Regions from separate parts of the Homo sapiens genome. Here all the other regions are linked to region 3. The links come from fine-mapping of genetic effects on gene expression. A gene starts in region 3. Each other region holds a variant in brackets. All regions are shown on one strand. Distances are from middle to middle. Region 1 has its middle 11 kb from the start of PHC1. Region 2 overlaps A2M (alpha-2-macroglobulin). Region 3 holds the start of A2M-AS1 (A2M antisense RNA 1).

Region 1 (5,231 bases), 160 kb after region 3:
GGTGCTCCTTGAAGTCTAGGGAGGCTGGGAGGCTTTAGCCCTTCAATATCGAACTGCCATGGAGGCTGCTTTACCTGAAATTTTGGTTCAGAGCCGTCCTTGTATTTTCTATTAGGTTGAAGTAAAACCGCAAGCTTGTATTGCTATCTCGTGGCTAAGGTTCCAAGGTATTGGATCTTCGTTGATGTATGTGTATACATGTCTAGATGTGTTTATTTGTTTGTACACCTACTGTTATATGTTGTGTCTACCAAATTGGCTTATAAGTAAAAGTGCGCTCATAAATCAAGTAAATAAGTCTAAGCAATTTTCAAGTTCACGTGACTTAAAGTGTAACTTAACAAGCTAGCTTTAAAATTATTGGCAGAATAAAAATAGAAATGCCTTCAGAATTGTCCGCATACCTTCCACCGTTAACAGCGCCACTGCATTCCAGCCTGGATGACGGAGAGAGACTGTCTCAAGAAAAAAAGAAAAGACCCAAAGAGGCAATTGCTTGAACCTGGGAGGCAGAGGTTGCGGTGAGGCAGAGGTTGCGGTGAGTGAGATCGTGCCATTGCACTGCAGCCTGGGCAACAAGAGTGAAACTCCGTCTCAAAAAAAAAAAAAAGAAAGAAAGAAAGAAAGAAAAAAATACAAATTTATAAAAAACCAATTCACTATAACAACAACTTACACAGCATTTACATTATATTAGGTATAAGTGATCTAGAGATGATTTGAAGTATACAGGAGGGCCAGGTGCAGTGACTCATGCCTATAATCCCAGCACTTTGGGAGGCCAAGGCAGGTGGATTGCTTAAGGCCAGGAGTTCAAGACCAGCCTAGCCAACTGGTGAAACCCCGCCTCTACTAAAAATACAAAAATTAGCCAGGTGTGATAATGCACGCCTGCAATCCCAGCTACAGGCTGAGGCACAAGAATCACGGGAACCCAGGAAACAGAAGTTGCAGTGAGCCAAGATCACTCCACTGCAACCCAGCCTGGGTGACAGCAAGACCCTCTCTCAAAAAAAAATAAGATAAAAAAAATGTATACAGGAAGATGTGCATAACTTGTATGCAAATACTATGTCATTTTATATAAGAACATCCTCAGATTTTTGTATATGCAGGGGGTGGCAACTAGAACCAATACCCTGTGGATACCAAGGAACTACTGTATACCTTTTTACACAAAGAATTATAAATTATGGGGATGTGACAAAACAAAGGGGCTTGGTGTAATGGCAGTAAATTGTGGGACAGTGACTAGGAAATATAAAGGGGGAACCAGTGGAAGTTAAAGGTTATTTTAGTAAGACTATTTGCATAGATCTATTTCAGTGTCAGTTCCCTTTCTATGGTGATAAGAATGTTCTCTTCCTTGTACACAGAGGGCATGTTTCTCATGGAAAATTGTATGACCTGCTTTCAGGTAGAAAGGGAGAATCAGAGAGCTTTTCCTGCATCAGCTGTTTCTCCAGTGTCTTCAGCTCAAATGAATATGCCAAAACAACATATTTTGGGGTGGCATAATCTGAAGCCCTTTATTTATTTTTCAAAAAGCAGCAAGCAGCTGAACGTTCTCTGCTGCCTGAAGTTTAGCCGGTTGCCAACTGTATTAGTGCGCTGGCAACAGGGAAATTCATGTTGTCACAGGGTTGGACTAATCAATGGGTAAGTACTCAGGTATCATTTTGAGTGGCAGCATTTTAGTTCTGTAAAAGTGATATTAAAATATAATTTTCAAAAAGCTAGAATCATAACTCATGCAAATATAAAACGAACACGTCAAAGATTTTATACAACTTATTAATTAATGAAAGAATCTATAAGATATCAAAATCAGTTCAAAGTGCGTTTGAGAAGCATGGGTGTTTCTAGGCAATTTAACAAAGGAATGTTAGTGAGATTGCTGTATTGGATACAAAAGTGGTTAATGTCCTATAGGACCATGAAACATAACCTTCAGGATTATCCTTTCCACCACCAGACAGCAGCCAGTTGCAGCTATGAGTTAATCTCTGCCTCTTCTGACTTGTGAAGTGACTGAATTGATGGGAATCAATCAAAGACACAAGCCCAGTATTGAACTGAAAGAACACCTGGTAACCTCTTCCTTTTCCAACTTTCAGAGGATATCTGTGGCAACTGTAAATCTGACTAAGGAAACTGTTAGAGTTGCCAGAGTCCGAGAAAATGGATCACCCCATCAGTGCACTCTGCCTCAGTTCTTTTTCTTGACGACACTGGAGATAGCCAGTCATCACACCTTCAGCAAACCTGCTCCTCCCTTAGACTTCCCTGATTTGGAAAGTGGCAATCCCAATTGCCCAAGCAAAAAACGTTGAAGTCATTCTTGACTCTTCTCTTTAGATCACCCCCTACATCTGAGTCATCCATTTATTCAATATTCAACAAAAATACATTGAGGGCCTCCCCTAAGACAGTCACTTTTTTTTCTGTCATGGGTGGCCATCAGTAGACAAAACAGACAAAATGTTTACCCTCATGGAGTTCACATTGTAGTGGGGGAGAAAACAAACAAATCAGTAAAATCTAAAATCCATGGGAATTCGCATGATGAGAACTGCTATGGGAACATTTTTTTAATGGAAAAATGTCAGGAGAATTGGAAGATGGGGCTTAGAATTTTAACAGAGTGGTCAGGGAAGACTTCACAGAGAAAGTGGCATTTATGAAGAGATGTAAAGGGAACAAGAGAGGGGGCATGTGTGTATCTGCTCCAGGTGGAGGATTGTGTGCCCGGTGTGTTAGAACAGCAAGCAGAGTGTGCCTGGACCAGAGTGAGTGAGATGGTTTAGCTGTGTCCCCACCCAAATCTCAACTTGCATTGTATCTTCCAGAATTCCCACGTGTGGGCTGGGCGTGGTGGCTCAAACCTGTAATCCCAACACTTTGGGAGGCCAAAGTGGGTGGATCAACTGAGGTCAGGAGTTTGAGACCAGCCCAGCCAACATGGGGAAACCCCATCTCTACTAAAAATACCAAAAAAAAAAAAAAAAAAAAAAAATTAGCAGGGCGTGGTGACAGGTGCCTGTAATTCCAGCTACTCGGGAGGCTGAGGAAGGGGAATTGCTTGAACCCAGGAGGTGGAGGTTGCAGTGAACCAAGAT[T/G]GCTCCAGCCTGGGCAACAAGAGCAAAACTCCGTTTCAAAAAAAAAAAAACAGAATTCCCACTTGTTGTGGGAGGGACACAAGGGGAAGTAATTGAATCACGGGGGCCCGTCTTTCCCATGATATTCTCGTGATAGTGAATAAGTCTCACAAGATCTGATGGGTTTATAAAGGGTTTCCGCTTTTGCTTCTTCCTCATTTTCTCTTCCACTGCCATATAAGGAGTGCCTTTTGCCTCTGGTCATGATTCTGTGGCCTCCCCAGCCATGTGAAACTGTAAGTCCAATTAAACTTCCTTTTCTTCCCAGTCTCAGGTATGTGTTTATCAGCAGCATGAAAACAGACTAATACAGTAAATTGATACCAATAGAATGGGGCATTGCTGAAAAAGATACCTGAAAATTTGGAAGTGACTTAGGAACTGGGTAACAAGCAGAGATTGGAACAGTTTGAAGGGCTCAGGAGAAGACAAGAAAATGTGGGAAAGTTTGGAACTTCCTAGAGACTTGAACGGCTTTGCCCAAAATGCTGATAGCGATATAGGCAATAAAATCCAGGCTGAGGCCGGATGCAGTGGCTCACGCCTGTAATCCCAGCACTTCGGGAGGCCCAGGTGGACAGATCACTGAGGTCGGGAGTTCAAGACCAGCCTGACCAACATGAAGAAACCCCGTCTCTACTAAAAATACAAAATTAGCTGGGCGTGGTGGCACATGCCTGTAATCCCAGCTACTTGGGAGGCTGAGGCAGGAGAATCACTTGAATCCAGGAGGCGGAGGTTGCGGTGAGCCAAGATCGTGCCATTTCACTCCAGCCTGGGCAACAAGAGTGAAACTCCATCTCAAAAAACAAAAAACAAAAAAAAAATCCATGCTGAAGTCGTCTCAGATGGAGATGAGGAACTTTTTGGGAACTGGAGCAAAGGTGATTCTTGTTATGTTTTAGCAAAGAGATGGGCAGCATTTTGCCCCTGCCCTAGAGATCTGTGGAATTTTGAACTTCAGAGAGATGATTTAGGGTATCTGACAGAAGAAATTTCTAAACAGCAAAGCATCCAAGAGGTGACTTGGGTGCACTTAAAGGCATTCAATTTTATAAGGGAAGCAGAGCATAAAAGTTTGGAAAATTTGCAGCCTGACTATGTGATAGAAAAGAAAAACCCAAGCCAGCTGCAGAAACTTGCATAAGTAGCAAGAAGCCTAATGTTAATCCCCAAGACCATGGGGAAAATGTCTCCAGGCCATGTCAGAGACCTTCACGGAAGTCCCTCCCATCACAGGTCCAGAGGCCCAGGAGGAAAAAGTGGTTTCGTGGGCCAGGTGCAGGGTCCCCATGCTGTGTGCAGTCTAGGGACTTGGTGCACTGTGTCCCAGCCACTCCAGCCATGGCTGAAAGGGGCCAACGTACAGCTCAGGCTGTGGCTTCAGAGGGTGGAACCCCCAAGCCTTGGCAGCTTCCATGTGGTGTTGAGCCTGCAGGTGCACAGAAGTCAAGAATTGAGGTTTGGGGGCCGGGCACAGTGGCTCACGCCTGTAATCCCAGTGCTTTGGGAGGCCGAGGCAGGCAGATCATGAGGTCAGGAGTTCGAGACCAGCCTGGCCAATATGGTGAAACCCTGTCTCTACTACAAATACAAAAATTAGCTGGGCGTGGTGGCACATGCCTGTAGTCCCAGCTACTCAGGAGGCTGAGACAGAAGAATCGCTTGAACCTGGGAGGCGGAGGTTGCAGTGAGCTGAGATCGCGCCACTGCACTCCAGCCTGGGTGATACAGCGACTCTCCATCTCGAAAAAAAAAAAAAAAGAATTGAGGTTTAGGAACCTCCGCCTAGATTTCAGAAGATGTATGGAAATGCCTGGATGCCCAGGCAAAAGTTTGCTGCAGGGGTGGGGCCCTCATGAAGAACCTCTGCTAGGGCAGTGCAGAAGGGAAATGTGGGGTTGGAGCCTCCACACAGTCCTTACTGGGACACCACCTAATGGAGCTATGAGAAGTGGGCCACCGTCCTCCAGACCCCAGAATGGTAGTTCCACTGACAGCTTGCACCAGGCACATGGAAAAGTTGCAGACACTCAATGCCAGCTCGTGAAAGCAGCCAGGAGGGAGGCTGTA
Region 2 (5,231 bases), 46 kb before region 3:
CTTCACTTTCCTCTAACTGAACCGTCTCATTCCCAGGCAGTATATGGTTCTGGTCCCCTCCCTGCTCCACACTGAGACCACTGAGAAGGGCTGTGTCCTTCTGAGCTACCTGAATGAGACAGTGACTGTAAGTGCTTCCTTGGAGTCTGTCAGGGGAAACAGGAGCCTCTTCACTGACCTGGAGGCGGAGAATGACGTACTCCACTGTGTCGCCTTCGCTGTGAGTGTGGCTGTTTGACTTAATATACTTGGTTCTTTTAGTCAGGGTCATAGGGATCTAGTATTCTGTCAGATGAGGCTTTGGGAGGTTGGTAAGAACTGCAGGAAGGAATCCAAATGTAGCAAACTAAGTATAGAAATTAAGGAGCAATGCATGACTCTCCAGCCATGGGAGACAAATATTTACAGGCAAACTAAAAGTCAGCTTAATAATCACATAGAAACCCTATTAGCCAGAAAGGAAAAAAAAAAAAAGAAAATGTGACTTCTTAAAATTAAGATGGAAAAAATATTAATAAAGCAAACTAGACCAAGGCTCAACATGAGCCACCCGTGGTGGACTGACAGGAACACATCACTCCACACTACTTCTAAGAGTAAAAATTGTAGAAATTACCCTGAGCAAAGGTGTAATATCTCTTCAGAGTTGTCCACATGTGAGATGCTTACAGCCTAGTGTCAGTAAAATACGGGGTTTTTTTCCATAGCCTGTAAAACATGCTTCGACCATGCCCTTTTAGCATGTAATATCAGCCTGGTAAAGCTCAGCGTATAATTGAATCAAGACTGTTTCTGTGAGCTGTATGAAGGTGTGAATCTCACTTACAACCTCTCTTACTGATTTATTTTCCTCCACCTTGTGTCCTGTCTCCCCATTTGTAAAATGGCAGAAGTGATTCCTGTCCATGCCAACTTTCCCTGCTGAGAACAAGGGAGTGAAGTTAAGTAAGAAGGGCAAGATCTCCAGGGAAGAGTGCAACAGCAAATAGGGGAGGAGACCTGCGGGTGCTGAATGGGGTTTCAGGATCGGTCCTGTATTTCAGGTCCCAAAGTCTTCATCCAATGAGGAGGTAATGTTCCTCACTGTCCAAGTGAAAGGACCAACCCAAGAATTTAAGAAGCGGACCACAGTGATGGTTAAGAACGAGGACAGTCTGGTCTTTGTCCAGACAGACAAATCAATCTACAAACCAGGGCAGACAGGTATGAAGAAGCCTACAGACAGGACAACTTCAAAAAGGAAAGATCTTCTTCCCCTGGATGTTCCCCAGGCAAAGTTCCTATAATCTTGGTTCCTTAATAGCTTGTCTTACCAGCCTACAGGCCTACTTTGGGTTTGGGGGCTCATGAAAAATATTTCTGTTTCAGTGAAATTTCGTGTTGTCTCCATGGATGAAAACTTTCACCCCCTGAATGAGTTGGTGAGTTTTCTATTATCTACATAAAATGATTGTCTGTATAAACAGGCTGGGAACCTGTTTTTTGTGCTGAGGGAAGACCAGGGAGAGGAAGAATCTGGTATCATTAACAGTAACTTCTGGCATTACAACAGCACAAGATCCTAATCTAAAACATCATTCCAGGTAAAGAAAGTAGGTAATTCTTTCTGTCTTGGTGCTGGTACTCAGTCAGTTGTCACACAATTAAATTTACTTTTCGGATGGTTCTTAATTAGGACAATTAGAAAGATACATTCAATAGCAGACACAGAAAAATCCTCAAAGAACCTAAGCTCAAAAAACATTTTAAAGATTTAGATTTTTTCTATACACATCTACCAAAATCTTCACTATAAAGGAAAGTCAGGGTAATTAATTTGTTCCTCAAGACTAACTCTTGGTATCTGTGATAAGAAACAGTTCTTTCTATTGTAATGCAGACATCAACCCAAAGTCTTCATTTTTCTCTCCCAAATTAACTTCTTCACATTTTCTTATCTCAAAAAGAGGCAACTCTTCTCTTCTAGCTCCAAAGACAAAAGATTATGGCCTAGTTCTTGTTTCTCTTTCTCTCATACCCACATCCACTTCACTGGAAAATCATGTTGGCTTAAAATATATTCAGACTATTTCTTATCATCTGAACTACTGCTGCAAGCTAGTCCTAGTCAATGTCATCTCTAAATAAGATCATTACAATAACCTTCAAAGTGGTCTCCCAGCTTCTACTTTCACTCCTCTGTCTAAAATGAGGCACCACACCCATCACTCTGTCAGCCTAACTTGGCTTTGTTTTTCTATTTGCACTTACCACCATTCTATACGTATTGATTTTTAAAAATCTGCCTATTTCTATTATAACATAAGCTCCATTAAAACATGGTTTATTGTTCTTTTGTGCGTGGTTATATTCTCAATACCTAGAATGATACACAGCGCATGAGAAGGTACTTAATAAAGATTAGTTTTTAAAAATGAATAAACATTCATAGTAGCTTCTTATCAATGTTTATTCATTTTTAAAAGTAATATTTATTAAACTAAATTTATTAATGAAATATGTCCATTCCTCCTCATTCTTAGAACTACGTAAGAATTCTATGACCCATCTTAATGATTACATCTGAACATATTTACTTATAGTTACATAAGTGTTTATTTCTCAACCTGTAAAATTGCATAGCAAAGGATTGATCTTCACTAGGATGCTATAAGCACTTAAGACATGTTAATCCATTTTTAGTAAATGGCACTTTACATGTATATTTGTTGCTGAAGGCCTAGTAAGTTCTTAACATTATTTATTAATTGCTTAAAATAGATTAATGAAAAGTTCTATAAAATTTAATCTGGAATATTTCTGTATTTCACTATAGAGGGAATTATTCTATATGAAACTAATTTAGATTTTTTAAACTTTTTATTGTTTTTAATTTTTGTGGAAACATAGCAGGTATATATATTTATGGGTTACATGAGATATTTTGATACAGGCATGCAGTGCA[T/C]GATAATGATTATGGATGATAATCATTATCATTATCCATATCATTATCCAATCATGGATAATGATTATTATCATGCATTGCATGCCTGTATCAATAAATGGAGTACCCATCCCCTCAAACATTTATTCTTTGTGTTACGAACAAATCCAATTATACTTTTAGTTATTTTTAAATGTACAATTAAATTATTTTTTACTATACTCACCCTGTTATGCTAGCAAATACTAGCTGCTTTGCTTATAAATGAGATTTAAGAATATTTGAAAATAATTATAAACTTCTTTTTTCTTTTGTCTTTCAGATTCCACTAGTATACATTCAGGTAAGCAACATGAAACATTCCATATTAAAAGGAAAGCAATACATATAGGGAAAATGTTCTTATTTCAGAGGTTTTTACAATATCTCAGAAACTTGTCATTAAAGGAGAAGCCTTCAAACTCCCATAGAGCTAGATGGCTATAACTCATCTCCTCTACTCACCCTTTACTACTACCCCATTTGACCTTTTTGTAGATAACTTAGGGTTTCCATAGATATCTTTTATTAGCTCCAATGCTCCAGGTGCTTTTGTAAGTTATAATTAATTTACTCATATAGGATCCCAAAGGAAATCGCATCGCACAATGGCAGAGTTTCCAGTTAGAGGGTGGCCTCAAGCAATTTTCTTTTCCCCTCTCATCAGAGCCCTTCCAGGGCTCCTACAAGGTGGTGGTACAGAAGAAATCAGGTGGAAGGACAGAGCACCCTTTCACCGTGGAGGAATTTGGTATGGATCATGAAAAGTCATCAAGCATTATTTTTCTTCATATTTAAACTCTTAGGTCCTGGAATTTAAGTTCATTTGGAGTCTTTCCATTTCCCATGGGTGACATTGGGCTTGGAGTAGAATTAATTACACCTAAGTCCAATGAGGACATCAGTGATCTGTGAATAGGACTTCACATAGCTTCGTTATTTTCTGTAGCAATATTTAATACCAACCCCCAAAATTAAAACATTCTTGTTTTAATGGAGTTTTCCATAATTAATTAAGCACACAGTGATCTCTCATAGTCCCTCAACTGAAATCTTCATTTGAGAGGAGGATAGATAAGAATAGATTGGAGAGCAGAGCTACCTTTTCAGAGCCCTAAAATATTATTAGGGAACTGTTACAGGGAACCTGAAAATAGGAATTCCCCCAAAGTTGAAAACCAATCACCAACCTTCTTTATCACCAATCAACAGTTCTTCCCAAGTTTGAAGTACAAGTAACAGTGCCAAAGATAATCACCATCTTGGAAGAAGAGATGAATGTATCAGTGTGTGGCCTGTGAGTTCATTTTTTAAAAATCTTTTGTGGGGGATTATTTAAAAGAGACTCACCATTTGGGATATTTTAACTACTCTCTCCGGGAGCAGTGGCAACACAAAAATTTTAAGTGCTTTGACAGCATCCTCATCTGTAGAATGTTATTCTCCTGTTGCTTTTCTATTTTTATTTTCTTTCACGTTCTTATCAGTATTATTCTATCATGAGGTAAGAAACTGTTTCTAGAGAGGTTATGCTAATAGGATTGATTCTGAAAGTGACAAAACTGCACACACACACACACACAAAATGGGAAGGGTGGATAGTGTTGAAGGGTATTGGTTCTGCCTTAACCAAAAATAACCAAACGTATATTAGGGAGATAATTAACACATGGCTATAGGGGAAATTCAATCATCAACAGATCATTTACCTGACCTTGCATGCTTACTGGAAAAATCACTTAGATTCAGAATTTGTAGAGATAGGCATACAACTGAAATCTCATCTAACTCACTAGTCCACCTAAGGCGGGTCTACATACCTGTCTGCACTGACATTTTTACGAAGAGACTGAACGTGATTTCTCAAGACAGTCTGTTCCAACCTTGAAAAGTCTTGTTTCCTGGATCTTATGTTCCCATCCATGGTGGCACACAGTAGCAGTAGCAGGAAGAGCAGGTATAGTCCTGTCCAAAGATCACACATGTAATACACCTACTATTCAGCTAGGCCCCTGCTCCAGTTCTGTCTCACAGTGATGGCCAAGTTCCTGGTTCCTCATAACTGGTGTGATCTTGCAAATAGACATACAGAGGACATTCTCAAATAGGAAAGGAGACAAATGCACTTGGAAACCCAGCAATTGTCTATGACATATTTACGACACAATCCCACTTTTGTAAAAAAGTAAACAGGCCCGGCGTGGTGGCTCACGCCTGTAATCCCAGCACTTTGGGAGGCTGAGGTGGGCAGATCACGAGGTCAGGAGAT
Region 3 (5,231 bases):
GACTTCACCAGAAAAGACTTTTTACATTAAAATGAAGTAGAATGAAATACAACATTGAACATGTCATATTGAGAGGCAAGATAATTGGGACTTGACCTGAATTGGGAGTGATGTGTCCTATGTTACACCAAAATCTGCCACTGATGAGAGTGATCAGTCAGTTAACCTGGGGTTTCAGATTCAATAATAGATGAGCTGAAAATAATGAAGGGAGGATTCATGCAGAAGCACGTTTTCTCAGAAGAAGGAATGTGTATGACTCAAAGTCCAAATAGGAGTATTATATTGGATCATCTTTCTTCTGGAACTTTGAGCCAGGATTAAAGGATAGCTGTAAAGTCAAGGAGATATTCTGATGCAGAAATCAGTTCTCACAACATCTGATTGATGTCTGATGTCTCACAACATCTCTTTAGTCTATTTTTAAAATATATAATTTTCTTTGCAGTAAGTATTGCGACATATATTTCCATTCTATAGAAGGGGAAGCAAAACTTCAGGAGTTTTTGAAGTAGGAAAGGTTAAAGCAGGAGGATTGAGCCAAGAGAGTCTGAGGACAATCGTAGGAGTCCTACTCTTCATTTGGCACAAAAATGACAATGCTTAGTTAGGCAGAAGGTGAGTATGGATTGTATAAACTAAGAACTGGAAAAGACTTTGCAGTTCAAGGAATCCTTAGCTCTGTCTCCAGGCTAGACAAAATAAGAAATAAAAGCTATCACTTCTGTGTGGTGCTTATAGAATAGAATTAACATATCAGCATTATGGGATCTTTAGGGTGTCGCTTTCCTGGCCAGTCTAGTGGCACCTTTGCCTGAGTTTTGCTCTGGGCCCACTGGGCTGCTTCTGCCCACTCGCACTTGCTACCAACCTGGATCCCGGATCCAAGGGAGATTGAGACGGGTGGAGCAGAGGGGTGTGCTAGGGGTGTGTGAGCAAGCGTGGCCACTGTGCAGTCACACACACAAGCTGCTGCCCAGGTTGGGCAGCTCCAGGTGCCAGCACAGGCTCTCCATGAGGTGGCTGGACCAGGCACACAACAAACAGCTTCCCCCTGGACCAGGCGCATCACAAGCAGCTTCCAACAGTGGCACTGGCGAATGCAGTGACGCCAACCAGGGCCCCAAAGAGGGAGTCACAGCCCGGGCTCAAGGAGCTCCCAGGTCTGGGCTTCTCCGAGGGCCAGAGCTCTTCTCTCCCTGTGGGGAGCAAGGGGCATGTTGCAGCCCTGTTTGTGTTACAGCTCTTTTAACCTTGCTGTGCAGCTCCTCAGCTCCTGCATCAAGCAGACAAGTGGAGAATGAGACAGATGAAGAGGAGCATTACTGAGCAATGGAACAGAAGGATAAGGAAGATGAAGAGGAAGGAGACCTGCAGTTAGTAGCTCATTTCCACAGTAAGGATGTCCTTTCCACAGCAAGGGTGTCCCAACGAGTGTTCAGCTTCTAGCAGAACGGAGACCCTGGAGTGGCTGGCTCCTCTCTGCAAACAGGTCTTCCCATTGAGTGTTCAGCTTTCAGCAGAGAGGAGGTTCTGGAATGGGTAGTTTCTCTCCACAGGTAGGTCATCCATTGTCTTCCCATCCTCTCTTCCAATCTAGCTGAGTCTGGGGGATTTTATGAGCCTCAGAGGGAGGAAATGCATGCTGATTGGTCCATGGGCAGCCATGAGTGGGCCCAGGGAGCAGCACCACAAGTTACCTCTCTGGTCTGCAGGCTTCAAGCCCTCACCAGCTTGAGGGTGGGACTTCACTGGGGACCCATCCCCTTCCACCCAGGAACCTGTCTGCCTCCTGCTCCCAGGCTGTTCATGCCAAGGAGCGCCTGCAAGTCAGTGTCCAGCTGTCTTCAGACCCCTCTCAGCCTCCCTCCCACGCTTGTTGGTGCCCAAGTTCCAAAGGGGGCCGAGACGGCAGGGGGCTGGCGTATCAGCACTGTCCTGAGCGTGTGCACGCTCGGCCAGGCTGTGACAGTACCCAGGCTCGGCCCGACCTTGCTCTGAGTTCAGAGTGGGTGCTAACAGTGGAGAGAAGCCAGGCAGCCGGAGTAGGCACCCTGGAGCCTGCAGTGGGCAGGGGACTTTGCTGGGCCTCTGAGAGCACAGAAAATGTCCACAGCCGCGGCAAGGTGGCTGCAGCTGCACCCTGGGAGCTCCTGCTCCACCAGTTCGGAAGGGGCGGGGCTCCTGCTTGTCCCTGGCTCACCTGCTCCTGAGTGTGCAGGTCCGGTGGCGCCTCCTTGCAGGCTGGGCTGATGGGCGGGGGCGGGGGGGGGGGGGGGGAGGAAGGGAATGTTCCAGGTCCTCCCTGGGCCCGGGACTGTGTCCGGGGCAGGGATGACGTCGCTGCAAGTTCTTCCCGTGGCCCCGGGGCTCAGGGGCAGCCCAGGACTCTCCCTCGCCCGGCTCACGGCCCTGCCTGGGGGGCGCCTCCGGGAGCAGATCACGAGCCCTGGGGCTCAGCCCTCAGGCGCGTCTAGCTCGGCGGTCACCCCAGTGCCGGGAGGACCCTGAAGACGCGCCCCAGGCGGCCCTACTCAGAGCCTCCTCCCAAGGCCCAGGAATGCGGCGCTGTCGGAGGTGTGCGCGGTGGCCACACCGCTGTCCGGGTCCCCAAAGCGGGCCCCGCTCCCACTTCTCGCCTTGGCCCCGAACCCTGGGTCCAGCCCCAGCGCTTTGTGTGCGAACACCGCTCCGCCCCGGACCCAGCTCCGCCTTGGGGCCCCTCTCTGCCTGCCCCTCCGTGCCCGACTACACTGCTTCCCCTCCGGCGGGCGACTCAGCCCGGTCCATCGTGGCGGCTTCCAGGGCGGCAGGCTCCGGGAGTACTCCCGGGGCCGGCTCCAAGGACTGTTCCCCTCCTCCCCACTCCCACTCCGCGGCGGCGGCGGGCGAGAGCGGCGACATAGGGCCAGGGTCCGGAGCGGTGGAGGCTCCTGGCCGGGGAGCACGTCGCCCCACCCGGCAACGCGAGGATGGTGGCGGCGCAGTCGGCTGCTTTGGGGTCTCAAGGCACAGGGGACGCGAGGCACAGATGTCCCACAGCAGCCACTGCGGCTCCCGCAGCTGCTCCGCCGCCGCTGCCCGCCCCTCCCTGCTGCAGCTGGCGTGATGGCAGCGGCAGCTCTGGACGCCCCACTGCTGCCACCATCAGCCTTGTGAAATAGGTACTACCTTAACAAATGAAATTGAAGCAGAGACATGTAATTTGCCCAAAGTTACTAAGTTAGTGACAAAGCTAGAATTCAAGACCAAGAAGTCTAGCTTCCATGCTCTTAACTTCCAACCATGGTGACACCTCAAACAACTTCAGACAAAAAGGCCAGGAGAAAGTATATTTCAGAGCTTAATAAACATTATAATTAGCTGTCAAATTAAGTATCAAGCCAGGGCACAGAACATAAAAGAAATCAGAGTATGGCTATGGGAACAAGACAACAGGATTATAATTTTACCTCTTGGTTCTAGTTTTTTTCTTTGTTCATATGGAAATCGTTACTGAAAAGGTACTTTAAGGATATGCTTGTTGCAAATCATTAGCTGTATCACTGACCAAGAGTGTTTATTCCTGAAATACTAACTGATTGCCTACTATCTGCCAGGCACAATATCCCATGCTATAATACAAAATTAAACAAAATAGGATTCCTCCCTTAGAAAAACTCACCGCAGAGTAAAAGAAAAAGATACACATCTGGGTCATTATAATGATCAGGTGCTCAAGCTATTCATTGCCCCAGTGGACTGGAGATACAATGGCCTTCTCAAGTTTTGGGGTATTACACTCAAATTCATATGTAATACTGGAGAAAAGGCCTAATTACAACTTAAACTGGATTTCCCACCAGCCTGGTGGCATGGGAATCTTGGAATTAAAATTACGTAGAATTTTTAAAAGTGATGTATCTTCTACATCTGATTTTGTGAACTGAAGTTTATTCTTTCCAGGAAAGCATATAGATACACGACAGGAAATGAAATGGATACTTGTTGGGGTCAGTTTTATGTATAGTTTGTATTTTATTTTGAAATATGATACACTGCTATTCTCTTGCATTTTCTTATATGTGACTCACCACTAACCCTATATTCCCCCATTTCAGGCCAGTTGGTCATAAGCATCCATTTGCCTCAGAGAATACTGGGTTGTTATGACAAGAATATAAAGTTGGAAAGAAATAGAATATTTGAGTCTACCCTGTAAGAATAAAAAGAATAAAAGGGGTTTAAATTTATTTAGACCCTATTGTTTAATCAAGAATTCTGGCCAGGAGCAGTGGTTCATGCCTATAATCCCAATGCTTTAGGAGGCCAAGGCAGGAGGATCATTTGAGGCCAAGAGTTTGAGACCAGCCTGGGCAAATTATTGCTCGGGAAAAAAAGGTCTTATTTAGTATTTTAGTCTTTACAATGTTTTTTTCTATTATGCAATATTCTCTCAAATACTTTATGTCCATCCACGTTGTCTGAGACATGCCACTTTAACATTCTAGTTATGCTGTAGCTGTCATTTTACCCTAAGCCGTTAGTAGTACTGATCCACATAAAATTGGGCTGTTTAGGTGTTTAACTGTTTAAATGTATAATATATCTGATATATTTATATATTGTATAAAAAATCACCTAACACAATAGATATTTACTATGTCTGCTATAAATATATATCATATAACATATAACAATATATTATAAATGATAATATACTATAATATAAAATATAATAAATATATTATAAATGTACAATATATCCGATATAAATATATAAATATGTCAACTATATTATACATATAAATGTATATGTATAATATATACATATATGTATAATACAATGTATTTATTATGTATATATATAAATGTATATGTATAATATATAAATGTATAATATATCTGATATAAACATATCAGATATATTATCCATCTATTGTGTCAGGTGATTCTTTATACAATATATAAATATATCAGATATATTATCCATCTATTGTGTCAGGTGATTTTTTATACAATATATAAATATATCAGATACATTATCCATCTATTGTGTCAGGTGATTTTTTATACAATATATAAATATATCAGATATATTATCCATCTATTGTGTCAGGTGATTTTTTATACAATATACAAATATATCAGATATATTATCCATCTATTGTGTCAGGTGATTTTTTATACAATATATAAATATATCAGATACATTATCCATCTATTGTGTCAGGTGATTTTTTATACAATAT

The links. PIP is the estimated chance that this variant, and not a neighbour inherited with it, causes the effect.
Region 1: its variant is the best candidate, but not a certain one, in a credible set for the expression of A2M-AS1 in tibial nerve (GTEx, PIP 0.54).
Region 2: its variant is the best candidate, but not a certain one, in a credible set for the expression of A2M-AS1 in testis (GTEx, PIP 0.57).

The regions. Positions count from the first base shown.
Region 1 is chr12:8,900,964-8,906,194 of GRCh38, reverse strand. No RefSeq gene overlaps it. Among named protein-coding and RNA genes, the nearest start is that of PHC1, 11 kb to the left of the region's middle. RefSeq lists an enhancer at 563-1,219. The variant T/G (reference allele first, on the strand shown) is at 3,120.
Region 2 is chr12:9,108,349-9,113,579 of GRCh38, reverse strand. A2M (alpha-2-macroglobulin) reads left to right here. Exons shown (of 36, transcript NM_000014.6): 2 at 37-220; 3 at 1,044-1,203; 4 at 1,369-1,421; 5 at 3,246-3,266; 6 at 3,545-3,713; 7 at 4,175-4,259. It also overlaps a transcript of KLRG1 not described here. Among named protein-coding and RNA genes, the nearest start is that of A2M, 5.0 kb to the left of the region's middle. The variant T/C (reference allele first, on the strand shown) is at 2,945.
Region 3 is chr12:9,062,201-9,067,431 of GRCh38, reverse strand. A2M-AS1 (A2M antisense RNA 1) reads right to left here and starts at 2,255. Exons shown (of 2, transcript NR_137425.1): 1 at 2,204-2,255; 2 at 1-1,606. LINC00612 (long intergenic non-protein coding RNA 612) reads left to right here and starts at 2,362. Exons shown (of 3, transcript NR_034140.1): 1 at 2,362-3,164. It also overlaps a transcript of KLRG1 not described here. RefSeq lists silencers at 2,867-2,916, 2,977-3,026.